4 linked regions of the Homo sapiens genome follow. The protein of the gene in region 2 purifies or fractionates together with the protein of the main gene of each other region. This does not show direct contact. Each region holds a gene or a part of one and is shown on either strand. Other genes may lie near its edges.

Region 1 (3,841 bases), on a different chromosome or scaffold from region 2:
TTCACAAATGTGGTCACAATTTGCCAACATTATCTCTTATCATTTATCCCAATAATGCCATATTCTTACACATAAGCATCTTACCACCCCATGAACATAATGGCCCTCTCTGGATTCTATGTCTTTGTACATTTTCTTCCTCTTGCCCTCATTTAATTTTCAAGACAGCTTAAGGTATCATCCATTCAGTGAAGGCCACCCTGATTCTCCCAGTTTTTGCCTCTGTCCTCTGTTCTTCCACAGCACTACTTTGTGTCAATCACCCCAGTAAAACTATAAGTAACTTAAGAGAAGGGCCCATGTATTTCCAAGTCCAAGCACAGTGACCATCACAAAATATATGGCCACTTCAATGCTATCCACATTGACACCCTGGGTTACCATTCTGTTTCCAACTCTGACGCCCATCATGTCAGTCCCCTACACTGTAACTCTTCATATACTTTTCTCCATTCTTGCACCTGGGCCCTAAAAGCCATGCTTAGAAAAATAAACAACTAGAATTCTAATTCTAGTTGTAAGTACTCAACTCAATTCTAGTAGTAAGTACTCAACAGTTAGATAATTAGATTGTCTTTAATACTCTGCTTCTCGAGTTTGTCAAAAGAAGCTATAGAAATATAGTTCTAATAAAATGTTTACTTGTTTTAGTAATTACTAAACAAGGGAAATAATGCACATTTTACATCTCATTTAGTTTAATCCTCCTTGCAAAATTAATAAATATGGAAAATAAGGCTGTAGGCTCAAAGGAAAAGGCATTGAAATAAATTTATATTTTAAACAATTCTACGGTCTAACACCACAAATAAAAATATACATTGCCAGCAGCATCATCAATAATAAATATTGATTAATGACCTACATATGTACTGGGCATTATACCAGACACTACGAGAAGCAACAATTAGTAAGATATCATCCCTATCAGTGAAGAATTCTCGGTTTAAATCCAGTAAGAATAGTTCCACAGAGATTATTATCTTTTTTGTAAGCCTTACAAAATCTACACTGGCCACACAATAGATACACTCCTTAACAAATATCTAGTGATTAATAATATATATGTCTTTTGAATTATGATACTTCACATCCCTTATACTTTGATAATCATTAATAAACACATAGTTCTAAATTATGGCACATCTATAATGACAGATTACACAAACATTAAAATGAGTGTTTCAGAAGAGTCTCTTGGTGAATTGCAAAAATCTTCAAGATATGATAGCAAAAAAAGACTCAAAATATATATTAAAAGACATATATATGAATTCTAAATTCTAAAACATAAAAATATACATTTTTATAAGTATTTATTTTATATATTTACATGATATAAAAATATATCAAGCCCTGCCCTTACCTTTTTATCTGAAGTGATAAGCTTAAATGCTTCTGTTACTTGATGGACTGTAGCACCACCACCAACATCAAGGAAGTTGGCTGGAGTCCCTCCATGAAGTTTTATTATATCCATTGTGGCCATAGCCAAACCAGCACCATTTACTATATAGGGGAAAATGATTTGTATAAGCAACAAACACAGAGAAAATAAATTAAACTTAGTAAATCCAAATTAAACTTAGTGAATCCAATTCTAACATAAAAACACATGGTACCTAGGCAGCCTATATTTCCATCGAGGCCAATGTAGTTGAGATTTGCCTTAGCAGCATCTTTGTCCCTTTCATCTTCCTGGGTCCAGTCCTGTAGATCAAAGATTTTCTTTTGGCGATAGGCTGAATTAGAGTCAAAATTGATCTTTGCATCCATACACAATACTTTGAAGGGAAAAAGAGAAAAATGACCTTAATTTCAAGACAGATACAATAAAGTATCAAATAGTCAAATGGTCTTTCATTTAGGGAAAAGACACATTTTAATTTTGTTACTTAATGAAAATATTTCAATTTATGTTCACTATGAATTCAAACTGTTCTTTAAAAAAGAATATTTGGGAATTAAAACTGCCCCATCAAAGTTATTGGGTCTACATCCATGCTATGCACTACATAAAGAAAAAGAAAACCTCAAAAATATTTTAAATTATTTAAAAATTGTCAAAAATTAACTATCCTTGTTCGTAGCTAACCCCATCACTTGGGCCCCATATCCCATCCCCTCTCCTCTACTCAAAAATAATGTTCCAGCAATTCTGTCTCCCCTACATTATAAATCTGCCTCCCCCCACCCCTTACCTTTCTATTGGCTAAATCTTGCCGACTTGCTAAAACAGTTTTATTTCCTCACCTTAATAAAAAGAAAAAAAAATCTTTTAACTCCTATCTCCCCCTTACTCTTTACTACATAGCAACTCCTTGAAGATTTGTCTAATTAAAAGAGGGGTCTCAGAACAAGGGTTTCTGGGGAAAAAAAAGAAATAGAGGGGTGAGCAAACTATGGCCAGATTCGGCCTGTGCTTGTTTTTATTTTTTATTTTTTTGAGACAGGGTCTCGTTCTCACACCCAGACTAGAGTGCAGTGGCATGCTCTCAGCTCACTTCAACCTCCACCTCCCAGGCTCAAGCAATTCTCATGCCTCAGCCTTCCGAGTAGCTGGGAATACAGGCATGCACCACAACACCCAGCTAATTTTTGTAGTTTTAGTAGAGATAGGGTTTTGCCATGTTGGCCAGGCTGGTCTCGAATTGCTGACCTCAAGTAATCCACCCGCCTCAGCCTCTCAAAATGCTGAGATTAAAAGTGTGAGCAACTGAGCCCAACTTGTGCCTGTTTTCAAATGGCCTGTAAGCTAAGAATGGATTTTACACTTTTAAAGGATTATGAAGTCAAAAGGGGAAAAGAAAGAGAAGAAGAAGAAGCAAAACAGCAGCATCAAAAACTATATGTGATCCATAAAGCCTAAAATACTTATTAAATGCCAACCCCTGTGCTTAAACTCCTTGTACCAAATTTTTTTCCTGCCATTCTCTCTTATACCCACTCTAATCAGGCTTTTACTCCCAGCACTCTACCAAAATGGCTCTTAACAAAGGTCACCTCTCTGACTTCACCTTTCAGTACCCTACCCCTTCCTCACTCCAATCTAACCACAACATTCTCCTTGCAGCTCCTGAAAAGATACAGGGTTGAAAGAAGCAAGCAATTTCAGCTGCTGCCCAACACAGGAGAAAAAGTTTGGAGCCCAGCTAAGTTAAGTACCCTTAATACCAAAAGTCAATATTCTTTCAGAGGAAGATAACAGAATTCAGTCTTTACACCATAGCTCCCAAAATGCACAGTGTATGAGTCAAACTTACTAGATCCGTAATGAAACGGGGAAATGTAACCACTAGTAAAGAGAAGAAACAGTCAACTGAAACCAAACCCACAGTAACCCAAATTTAGAATAATCAGAAGACTATTATAAACTTTTTAAAACATGTTTAAGGATTTAAGAGAAAATATGGTCATAATAAATGAACACACAGGTAATCTAAGCAGAGAATAAAACAAGGGAACAACATGGAAAATCCAGAACTAAAAAGTATAATATCTGAAATAAAAAATTCACTGGATGAACTTAACAGCAGACTGGTGATGGGTCAGTGAACCTGAAGACAAAGAGAAATTATCCAATCTGCAGGAAGAAAAAAAAAGAAAAAAGAAACTGCACCTCAGTGACCTCTTGGACAATATCAAGAAGTCTAATGTGAAACTGGAAGAAAAGGAGAATGGGACAGGAAAAAAGTGATGAAAGAAAAATATATCAAGCCAAGATTCTATATCCAGTGAAAATATACTTCAAAAGAAGGACAGAATAAAGATATTTGCAGAATAATGGAAACAATATTCATCACTAGCAGACCTGTGCTAAGAGAAATGCTACAGAAAGTTC
Region 2 (4,806 bases):
AAATAGGTCAAGAGAAGTGTGAAAATGTGGGAAAGATTTTGCCCTGGTAAAACTTGGTCACAGCAAGAATGCTGAGTAGCACGGTTAAAGCCGTGAGGCGGACAAAGGCTTGTCCAGTGCCTGGCTCTGATGTTTTGGGCATTAAGTTCCCCCAAGAGGGTGCAGAAATCCTGTGTCCATTCTGGGGTGTGAGTTCCTTCTGGATCATTCAGCCAGAGGAGAATCTTTATTGGCTTTAAATAAATTCAGATCTATTAACAATCCATTAACAAATTTGTATCCATTAACAAATTGGATAAAATGATCAAAAAAGAGAGGCAGATAGTAACCTTGACAATCTCTTCCTGGATCCAGCGTTCATCTTCTGAGGAGTGGTGGAGGTGGCTGAGACCAACCACGCACCACCACCCCTTCTCCCACTTCGATTACAGAGGCTTTGAGGTAAAGCTCGCACAAGGGCTCAAGGCAAGGCCTGGTCTTCTGCCACCCCAGTGCCCAGCTCCTCACTCTGGGCTTGGCCCAAACTCCGTGGATGTTCTGTAAACACCTGCTGGAAGAAGAGGAGTGCGGGAGGAAGCGGGGAAAGGGATGTGTGGGGTGGGGGGATCACGGTTCTGTGAGGGAGGCTGCTAAGCAGAAAAGCAACAAAACCGGCCACAAGAGAACGGTGCTGCTGTGAACAGAGGGCTGTGAGGGAGGGCGGGGGGCGTGACCTTGGCGCTCATCTTGTAAACTCGGAGACATTCCTTGGGAAAAGATATTTCCCTAAACTACATCGATCTTGGGGCCGGACCCTTTCATCGTCCCACAACAATCACCACCGGGTCTACGTCCTTTAAAAACACCTGAGCGGCGGACCCGGTGGCTCATGCCTGTAATCCCGGCACTTTGGGAAGCCGAGGCGGGCGGATTGCTTGAAACCAGGAGTTCAAGACCACCTTGGGCAACATAGGGAGACCCCGTCTCTACAAATAGTAATAGTAATAATAATAATAATAATAATAATAATAATAATAATAATAAATTAAATTAGCCAGCGTGGTGTCGTGTGCCTACAGTCAGTCCCAGCTACTCGGGAGGCTGAGGCGGGAGGATCTCCTGAGCCCACGAGTTCCAGGCTGCAGTGAGCTGTGGTCGCGCCATTGCACTCCAGCCTAGGCGACAGAGCCAGCCCCCTTGTCTGTATAAAAACAGAGAAAGAAAAGAGAAGAAAGAAGGAAAGGAAGGAAGAAAAAGAAAGGGAAAGACCACTGGAAGTGGAGGCCAGGCGTGCCTGAAGCCTTGGCAATCAACAGCCAGCGCACACTCGCAGCCTCGGTCTCTGGGCGGGCCTCTCCACCCCTTTCCTCCACGGGGCCTATGGGGCTGCGGGGAGGAAGGGGCGCACCCATCGTCGACCCCTACAGGGCGCGCAGTGGGTGATTGCGGCACTGGCTCGCGTTCCCGCCCGAGGGAGACGAGGCGGGACAGCGGGCGGGAAAGGGAGCCTGCGCCGCAATCTTTCCCGCCCGAAAGACCCGCCCCGCGGTGGGCCCCAGTCCCCGCCCGGTCCGCGGCGCTGCCGGCCCCTCCTCGCCGCCGCGGAGCTGGACCGCAGTTGTGCCCCGCCGACCATGCGCCGCCTCCCGCGGGCCCTGCTGCTGCAGCTGCGCCTCGCCCTGCTGGTGGCCGCGGGGGCCCCGGAGGTGCTGGTCAGCGCGCCGCGGAGCCTGGTGTGGGGGCCCGGGCTGCAGGCGGCCGTCGTCCTGCCGGTCCGCTATTTCTACCTGCAGGCGGTCAACTCGGAGGGCCAGAACCTCACTCGCTCTCCCGCAGGTAGTGTCCAGCCGCCGGCCTCCCTCGTCCCGCGGCCGGGTCCCCGCGCGTCCCCGCCGCCCGGGAGTCCGCCCGCGGCCTGCGTGGCGTCCCTCCCCGGCGTGTGTCGCCCCTTTTTGGGTCTGGTCAGCTCCTCTTCCCTCCTCCCGCCCATACTCAAAGCGGGCAAAAATCACCACGAAAGTTTGTGGAATGAATGAATGAATGAACTTGAAGGGCCCTTCCGCATTTAATGTGCAGGGACTGATGTTGCGAATGGACGGCGCCCGGGCGTTACAAGGAGTGTGCCGTGAGTCACACGTTGCCTTCCATCTCGGACTTAGTTGTCTGAACTGTGAGGGATTGCAGGGAGCGCTTTCCAGTGGTGAGTCATCAAGCCGACGGATCGCGTCGGATTACATGGCTTAGGCCTGGTGGGTTTGGAGCAACGAAATCCTACGCAGAGGAAATGTCAGAGCCGTAGGAAGGAGGAGGGGTTTACGTGTTAGTTTTTTGTTTCCTTTTTAGTTCTGAGTTTTTGAAAGCAGATTACAGGAACTAGGGAAACTCAGTAGAAATCATTCGGTTTTCCCTCCACGGAGGGTGAGATGGATCTCGTCCTGAATCCCTTTCTGCCCGGTCCTCCTCCCACGTTGTCCTTCACGTCTTAACCTTTGCAACTTCTTAAAACTTGTCCTGCTGGTTTCACGCTGTTGTCAGTCAGGATTTGCTAATGTATAATTTGGGGCTCTGGCCAACTAGCACCTTGTTGTATCAGCGAAGAGACAATTAGAATAAACCAGTGCCTCTGCCCCTGCTAGTCCAGCTGGGAACATAGCTGCCAGAAGTGTGTCCCAACTTGGGAAAGGGGTAAGGGGGTCTTGACAGCTGGGCAAAGCAGAGAATTTAGGAACCAAACATAATTCACTTTTAGATTTAATGATTTTTAAAATTTCATTCATTCAAGAAATACTTCTTTGATGTCTACTTCTGTGTTTGGTAATTCTGCTGGGAATCTAAGGATGAAAAGACAATGCCTGACCATCAAGGAACTTACAGTCTGTTGGTCAAAGACATGCAAATAACTGATCACTGTACAAGATAATTGAAGGTATGTACAGAGTGCAGTGGCAACATTGAAGCACTGCCAGAGACTGGAGAAATCCAGGAAGATTTCAGGAGCAGAGACTTGAAGGATGAGAAGGTTTGCTGGGCAGGCATATAGAAGGACGCCATGGCATGTGCAGAAGCACAGAGGCGTAGGAGACCGTGGTGTTCGGGAAAATAAGTACTGTAATTTAATGATACTGAGCGGAAAAGCCTGGTTGATTGTAGCCTCTGGTCTTCAAGCGCCTTGAATGCCAAGCAAATGACTTTATAACTAGATAAAAGAGAGCCACTGGAGAAATTTGAGCTGAGGCAAGAATCTGCCTCTCCCTTAACTACCTCAGTGGCTTGTTTTCTACATTTGATTCAGAACACCACTCCTGAAGTTGTCTTTGGGCATTGCTTTGATAACGTGTCTACCAGTTAGACCCTAAATACTCAGACAACTGGTTTCATATGCATGATATGCATTTAGGTAAAATAATTCCGACTCTATTGACAGAAACGCATGTGTGTATATCAGGGTTTCACAAACTTTTTCTTTAAAGGGCCAGATAGTAAATAATTTAGGCTTTGTAGGTGATATCATCTCTCACATTTATTCAGCTGTGCTTTGTAGCCATGGACATATAACAAACCCGTTTATGTTACAATAAAACTTTTTATGGCCACTGAAATTTCAATTTCATATAGTTTTCCATAAGTCACAGAATATTATTATTTTGATTTTTCTCCAACCCCCCTCCTCCTTTTTTTTTTTTAAGAGACAAGGTCTTTGTCACCCAGGATGCAGTGCAGTGGTACAGTCATAGCTACTGCAGCCTCAAATTCCTGGCCTCAAGGGATCCTCTTGCCTCAGTCTCCCCAAATGCTGGGATTACAGGCATAATCCACCATGCCCATCCCCATTTTAAAAATATAAGAATCATTGTTAGCTTACAGGATTTACAAAAACAGGCACTGAGCTGGATTAGCTAGTTTGTCAATCTCTAATGTATGTTAAAGACTCTCAGTTAAAATCCAAATGATACATGACTTAAAGTTGTGTATATGTTTTATATGTACATATATTATATATACATAAATATATTTAAACAAACGAAAAAGTTTACAGACAGTTTCTATTAAATATCTTAACAGAAGGAAAGTTACATTTATGATTCTGCATGGTTTACCCCTGTGATCTGTGACTTTTCTTTTTTTACCTTTTTTAGTCTTAGAAAGACTTCTCAGCCTGGGCAACATAGCAAGATTCCATCTCTACTTAAAATAAAAATTTTAAAAATTACCTACTTGGGAGGCTGAGGCAGAAGGATCAGTTGAGCCCAGGAGCTCAAGGTTGCAGTGCATTATGATTGTGCCACTGCACTCCAGCCCGGGCAACATAGCAAGACCCTTTCTCTAAATAAATAAATAAAATGGAACTTTTTGGACAACCTTACTTTCATTCCTTTGGATTCCCTTTGTTTCCTTTCAGGCCTCTTGATTTCTGGCTTCCAGTTAAAAAGGTGCCGTATAGTTCTGAAAACTCACCCAACTAGTTTCTTACATTTCTGCCACCAACATTCACTTCCAAGTCCTGAAGTCTTTCCCTCTTCAAGAACCAACTGAATAGCTGGTTATTCATGCCTTGTAATCTCAGCACTTTGGGAGGCCAAGGCTGGTAGACTGCCTGAACTCAGAAGTTTGAGACCAGTCTGGGCAACATGGCAAAACCCATCTACCAAAAAAATCCAAAATATCAGCCAGGCGTGGTAGTGCACAGCTGTGGTCCCAGCTACTGGGGAGGCTGAGGTGGGAGGATCTCTTGAGCCTGGGAGGCTGCAGTTGCATTGAGCTGAGATTGTGCCACTGCACACACACAAAAGAACTAATTGGAAAAGAGGAAAAATCTTCTCAAGCTGT
Region 3 (2,763 bases), on a different chromosome or scaffold from region 2:
TACACCGCATTATCTAGGTTTATGTTATTTTACAGAAGAGACTGAGACTCAGTGAGGTTAACTGCTCAGTCACAGAGCTAGTAAATGGTGAGCCAAAATTAAAAACCAAGCTTGTCTCTGACCTTAACCATTATGCTATACTGTCTCTACATATGTATTATAAATCTCAAATCATATTTATTATTTTGCGCAGAAAACCATCATTGGCAAGGGCCCTTGCCTTCATGTTCCTAACAAGCCTCACACCTAGCAATGTCTAGGCAAAGTAAGTCCTTGAATAGCCAGTGCCATCTTCTATCAACCCACTCCAGCACCAGAGACTGTGGCACTCATAGATGATTTATCTTTGCTGTTTGTAATTTTTGTCCAGTATAAAAGATAACCCATGGATTGTAGTTTAATTGCCCCGTAGGACATAAACCAGTTTTGTATCTGTGGAGAGGCCCTCACCACCACCCCCAAATTTGAAGATTTGCTAGGAAGACTCATAAGACTCCACATACAGTTCTGCTCACGGCCATGATTTATTACAGTGAAAGGATACAAAACAAAATCAGCAAAGGAAAAAAGACACATGGGGTGAAGTCAGGGGAAACTAAGTGCAAGCTTCCAAGAATCCTCCGCCAGTGGAATCACAGAGGATGAGCTTAATTCTCCCAGCAACCAGTTGTAACAGCACTTGTGAAACACTGTCAACCAGAAAAGCTTGTTAGAGACTGAGTGCCTGGGGTTTTTACTGGGAGCTGGTCACAAAGGTAGTCTCTGCCTGGCACATACCAAAATTCCAGACTCCCAGAAGGAAAGCAGGTGTTCAGGAGAAACTATATTGTTTTACAGTTTAGATATAGTAAGCTACTTTGATCAGTTCTGGGAATGGTGGAAGCCCCCTGAACTCCAAGTTCCCAGATGCCAATCAAGGGCCAACCTTGTAAAGCAGGTCTCTAAGGTTAAGTAGTCAGGTCGGCTTCATTAACACTTTTTTCTGCACAGCAATTTTATCTCAACATTTTTTCTTCAATGCCCATAAATACTCAGTTTCTTGAATTGTACTTTGAACCAGGTTTACTATCTGCTGGTTTCCTCATTAATGAGTCGAATAAGTCTTCGACACATGCTCATCTTATACACATGTATATATATGAGTCATGTTGTCAACTTAAAAGGTTTGACAGATAATAACCTAATCAAGCTAAATAAAGTCCAGCCAAAATTAATTAATAAAAAACATTAACTAAATAATATCAAGGCTCAATCTACACCTCACTTTAGTTATTTAGGAAAGAAAAAAAATAACCTTTATACTAGCATTTCACACTTTCTTACTGACTTTAGAACGTCTTCTGATTTAGGTGGCAATCACTTGCCTAGTTGTACTTAGGGCAATATTAATAAAATAATGAATGTTTCTGCAAGAAATAATATATAAAGATTAATTTCCTCTTTAATTTTACCAATCAGAATATTAAAAATACTACATCATTGTTTTAGATGAAATTCCCCATTTAAATATATTATACATAAGCCAAATTTTAGAAATAGCTCCTTGTATCACTGTACAATTTTGGGCCTTTAAAAAAAAAGCTCAATTTTAAGTTTGAATATAATGTGCAGTTTATATAACATATATATTATATTATATATACTTTATACATTATATAAAGTATTATCCTTATTGTGAACTTTATTATGCTTCTGAAATTTCTCCATCATTTCAAATTTACTTCAATAAAAATTTCCCTATATTTTGTGAATTGCATTTTCAAATCAGAAGTAATGTTACAAATTTCTGTCTATAATAAAAAACAAAATATTCACGCTTTATTAATAATCCTAATTAGAAAAGGATGCAATTAAGAGCTGGCATAGCTAACATAAGCATAAGAAAGGTAAACTTTTCTTGAATTAAAAAAAGGAAATACTTTAATGAAAAAAAATCAAGGACAGAAGGAAGGAGAAAATTTTCTAAACAGCAGCTGGTCCTTCTTCACAATTTGCATTACTTATGCAAATACATCATTAAATAATACTCATCTTATATTTACAAAATAGAGGAAAGGGAAAAACCTAAAGTATCAGGATCTTTCATTTCTTATCCCTCTTCCAATCTTCTGGATACATTAGTTTACATACCAACTAAACATGTGATACTAGTTAACTATAGTTGAGAGCTTATCAATTAAGTCATCAATAGTGTAAACAAGAAGTTGAATGTCTGCTTTTTCCCTCATTCGGTGATCACTGTGTTTTCGGAGGATGACATCCACATCTGTGCTGAGTACTCGATCGGCAACCTGCATTGATGTATGCCAAGGTACAATGTCATCCTTCATGCCATGGAGCAATCTTATGGGGCAGTTCACAGGAATTGGGCTATGTAACAAGCAGTGATGTTCAGCTTCTTTAATGAAACTGTACTGAACGTTATAAACTCCTTCTTCAGAGTATTTTGATGGCATGCTCCACACACCTTTCATCTCTACTTCCTTTTTTAGCTATTGGAAAAAGAAAGAAAAATAAAAGTATTTGTGACTTTAGGCAACATTAACACATGCAATAGTTTTAAGTAATCTAATGAAAGCAGTTCTTGAATAAGAGGATAGAGATAACAAAAGTATAACAATAATAATTATCAATAATTACTACATGCAAGGTACTGTGATGGGTATTTTATACATATTATTCCATAAGATTCTGATAATAATTCTGTTATTATTCTATTTTTATAAAAGAGGATATTATGGTTTAGATAAATGAAATACTGTG
Region 4 (3,720 bases), on a different chromosome or scaffold from region 2:
TGGCCACAAGCCAAAGAATGTTGGCAACTACCAGAAACTGGAAAAGGCAAGAAACGGATCCTGCCCTAGAGCAGAGTGCCAACACCTTCATTTTGGCCCCATGAATTTGGACTCCAGAAGTAAAAGAGAATAACTTTGTTTTTTTTCAGCCACTAAATTTGTGATGATAGTTTATTACATCAGCCATAGTAACAAATATTCCTTTGGCTATTGTGTACAAGCAGATAAATGGTTTAAAGGAATGCCTTTGAGTATGCTAAAGTAGAATGACTTCATATACACACAAATTTTGGCCAAAGATGGTTTAGGCAGTGAATGTACACCCATGCCACAGACTGGAGTTTTCATCAACAAGTGGGGGTATTTGTGATTTAAAATATGAATGATTGCACTATAACTATCAGACCAAAAAGCTGCCCTTCAGGTATAAAGTAAAAATTGAGATCCCTCTGCCAATATTCTACAAGAGACATCAGAAAGAAGGCACTGTTTTCAGACTCTTAGCATGAAAATAACTAGTCTGGTTTACTTCAAGGTGATAGTGCACAAATCATATTAGGAGTTGACAGCTATAGATCCTTCTCAAAGGTCTTCATGCTGGAGGGCCTGCTGATCACTGGGATAGAAGTAGCTGTGGTACCTGGCCAAGGGGAGGAAGCTGAACATGGTGTATGCTTGGGGTCAAGATGATTGCTGCCTTTCAGAGCTCAGGATACATGGCTCAAATTTCTCCATTTCTTTTGTTGGTGCTTAAAGATAACCTGTGCAAGTGTTGTCCTGGAAGGCTATGAAACAGCTTACCTAGAGCAAATACAGGAAGACCATGACTAACATTGGCTCTTGGGCATTGTTTTAGAGGGCGAAAGGTTTAAAGCAAGAATGCAGCATGGTAGGATTCTCTGCAGAGATGATCCATGGCCTAAATTATGAACTGCTATATTAAATAACTTTTACCTGATTTTATTTCTCAATATTGCTCTGTGTCAAGAGCTGTAAAAGGTCTAAGATGTTACCCTTCTTGAAAACTAGTTTTCTGAATGCTGGCAGAAGACATGAGACTCCTGGGTCAGACAACAGACTTAATTATTTAGAACATAGCAAGCAACATGAGTTTGAGCCACAGATCCCATGGGAGTGACACAGGGCAAGCTAGGTGGATACTGCACATGCAGTGGGTTTGCGTCACAGCCCAAATCTAATGAGGTCACAAGCAAACTGGCCTGACTTTCGCATTAGAGGGAAACACTATTTTGACTGTATCAGATAGTAAACAAACCTGTCCTATGATCCAGAGGAAGATAGTCTCTACCTTCCAAAGCTGTCATTATATGAACATTCTCGATTGGATAGTTTGGAACAAAACACCAATGCCTCTACTCACAAAATGTATGGAGAACTGACTCCCCATCTCTATGTGTTCTTTTATGCATCTCAAGCTTAGTTTTTCAGCAGTGTAGAGCTTTACAGTGTCTGCCTTAGACAACAGCATGATGCAGGGAGAAATTACTGGCCTGAGCATCAGGTGACCTTAGCTCTAAATCAATACTGCATTTTTTTTTTGATACAGTTTAACTCTGTTGCCCAGGAGTACAGTGGTGTGATCTTGGCTCACTGTAACCTCCTCCTGCCTTACCCTCCCGAGTAGCTGGGATCACAGGCATGTGCCACCACACCCGGCTAATTTTTGTATTTTTAGTAGAGATGGGGTTTTGCCATGTTGGCCAGGCTGGTCTTGAACTCCTGACCTTAAGTGATCTGCCCATCTTGGCCTCCCAAAGTGCTGGGATTACAGGCGTGAGCCACCATACCCGGCCTCTGAATTAACACTGCTTTCACTGCTTTCTAATGGAGCTAAGATCTTAAGTAAATGAATATTCAGCTCTACAGCATATGAAGTTACATCACGTCCCAGGCTCTTCCCAGATCAGACTCCCTTAAGGTAAGGAAATCATTCCAGAATTATTTGGCCAGAACACTTGGTGAGAGAGCAAGTGCAACCTGTAGGAATAAATTCATTCCAACTCAACATTTACTAAGCACTCATGATGGTGAGGGTTAGCCATAAAAAGATGAACATAGAGGAGCTCAAAAACTGAGTTTTGGTGGGCTGGATAGTAAATGAACCTGTCATATGCTTCAGAGGAAGGTAGTCTCTAAAACAGAAGTACAATGTAGTGCCATGGAAACAAGAGTAATAAATTGTGCTAAGCATTAAGGAATAAACAGGATTTAGGTAAGGAGCTTCCAGAATGTGGGGAAACAACCACAACAAATCTAAATAAAGGCACAGCATGAGTGTGAGCTGAAAATGAGGCATTCAAGGTAGAGTCCAGCAAAGTGAAGTGGTTGTTTTTAAACGAGTGGGGAAAAGCCAACAGGAGAGCTATGTGAATGAGAATTATCGGCATATATTGAAGACCATGCATGTAGCTGAGATTCCTCAGGACAAAATAAAATGTAAAGGAGCTAAAATAAAACTATTAATATAAGGGCCTTTAACATCTAAGGGACAATGTTAAGTGGTGAGAGAGGCAGTATGAGCAAGGTCACACCAATGGTGTTGAGAGAGGCCACATGGACAGGTCTACAAATCGGTCTTTAGTAATCTGCCAGAAGAGTGTCACTGGACAGATGAGGGCAGAATCTGCCTGCCGGGGTCTGAAAAGCAATTGAAAGAAACTAAGAAATTGGGTGAAAAAAAATCAGGAAGAGTACTTTACAGGATGGCGTGCTCTTTGTTCTGAGGGAGAAACTTTGAGAATGAATCTACAGACAAAAGACTTAAAGCCTAGTTAGCACAACGGGATATACTTGGAGGATTCAATATGCTTCAGGAAGAGCTAGGATGACAACATTTGGAATTACTGGACCCTGCCCACCATGTTCTGTTCTTGCAGATTCTTGTTCATTTGATTATGAATCAGCTGTGAAGTAAATCATTGAACAAGAAGCACTGTCTTTGTATGTATGTGTTTTAGTTATTTGTACATCAGGGGCTTAACTTTTTAATTGGTGATTTTAACAAGACCATTTTATCCTAAAGTGCTTTCTATTCCAACAGCTGGCTTTTTCTTAGTCTCCGAACTTCATTCACAAGTAGAAATGAATGAAGATAATAATTTGATAGGAAATGTGAAACTGTCACACACAGGTGGTTATGAGGCATAAGGAAGAGCCCCTGTTTAGCCTGCAGCACACACATCATTTCCCTTTCTATCCCTCCTGGCTTCATTGTACCCACGCACCACCAAAACTTACACAGCAATGCCTAAAAAGTAGCACAAAAGACTTAAAACCAGTGCCAATAGAGCAGAACATTTATCTTGAAACCTAAACTCTTGTCTAAACTTTTTTCCACTTGGTGTACTTTGCACAGACCTAACTTTTGGTATCAGGAAGGAGTCCTTCCCTAAATACCCAGTCGATGTCACAATCTACTCCTTGGTCATTTAAAACCCCATAATGTTACTTATTTATTCATTTGCAACCAGTGCAACACTTATTATCTGTTAGCTCTCAGCTTCAAACAGCTAGGTCAAAGTCAAGTAGAACTTTCACCACAAACTGCACATCCTGACCTATTTCAACAGAGGTCGTCATCCCTGTGAGGAATTCACTTAAATGTGAATTCATTAAATGTGTTGCCTTACCTAAACTGCAAGAGATAGAGGTTCACAACTTGTGATAGCAGACTTCAAAGTATTATGCAAAAACAAAAAA

Evidence for each region. Proteins that work in one complex are often made in the same cells at the same time.
Region 1: the proteins of POGLUT3 (region 2) and SUCLA2 fractionate together in Homo sapiens (co-fractionation; one large-scale study listed by BioGRID). This does not show direct contact.
Region 3: the proteins of POGLUT3 (region 2) and ABHD10 fractionate together in Homo sapiens (co-fractionation; one large-scale study listed by BioGRID). This does not show direct contact.
Region 4: the proteins of POGLUT3 (region 2) and NIT2 fractionate together in Homo sapiens (co-fractionation; one large-scale study listed by BioGRID). This does not show direct contact.

What each region holds. Positions count from the first base shown.
Region 1 is NC_000013.11:47,952,774-47,956,614, forward strand, and holds part of SUCLA2 (succinate--CoA ligase [ADP-forming] subunit beta, mitochondrial precursor), read right to left. Parts: intron 1,785-3,841; coding exon 1,623-1,784; intron 1,510-1,622; coding exon 1,367-1,509; intron 1-1,366. UniProt on the Homo sapiens protein: ATP-specific succinyl-CoA synthetase functions in the citric acid cycle (TCA), coupling the hydrolysis of succinyl-CoA to the synthesis of ATP and thus represents the only step of substrate-level phosphorylation in the TCA.
Region 2 is NC_000011.10:108,495,174-108,499,979, reverse strand, and holds the start of POGLUT3 (protein O-glucosyltransferase 3 isoform 1 precursor), read left to right. Parts: upstream 1-1,595; 5' UTR 1,596-1,613; coding exon 1,614-1,815; exon of another isoform or gene 1,816-2,019; coding exon of another isoform or gene 2,020-2,179; intron 2,180-2,761; exon of another isoform or gene 2,762-4,806. UniProt on the Homo sapiens protein: Protein glucosyltransferase that catalyzes the transfer of glucose from UDP-glucose to a serine residue within the consensus sequence peptide C-X-N-T-X-G-S-F-X-C. Can also catalyze the transfer of xylose from UDP-xylose but less efficiently.
Region 3 is NC_000003.12:111,991,106-111,993,868, reverse strand, and holds the end of ABHD10 (palmitoyl-protein thioesterase ABHD10, mitochondrial isoform 1 precursor), read right to left. Parts: intron 2,493-2,763; coding exon 2,148-2,492; 3' UTR 501-2,147; downstream 1-500. UniProt on the Homo sapiens protein: Acts as an acyl-protein thioesterase that hydrolyzes fatty acids from acylated residues in proteins.
Region 4 is NC_000003.12:100,358,416-100,362,135, reverse strand, and holds the end of NIT2 (omega-amidase NIT2), read right to left. Parts: 3' UTR 501-3,720; downstream 1-500. UniProt on the Homo sapiens protein: Has omega-amidase activity. The role of omega-amidase is to remove potentially toxic intermediates by converting 2-oxoglutaramate and 2-oxosuccinamate to biologically useful 2-oxoglutarate and oxaloacetate, respectively.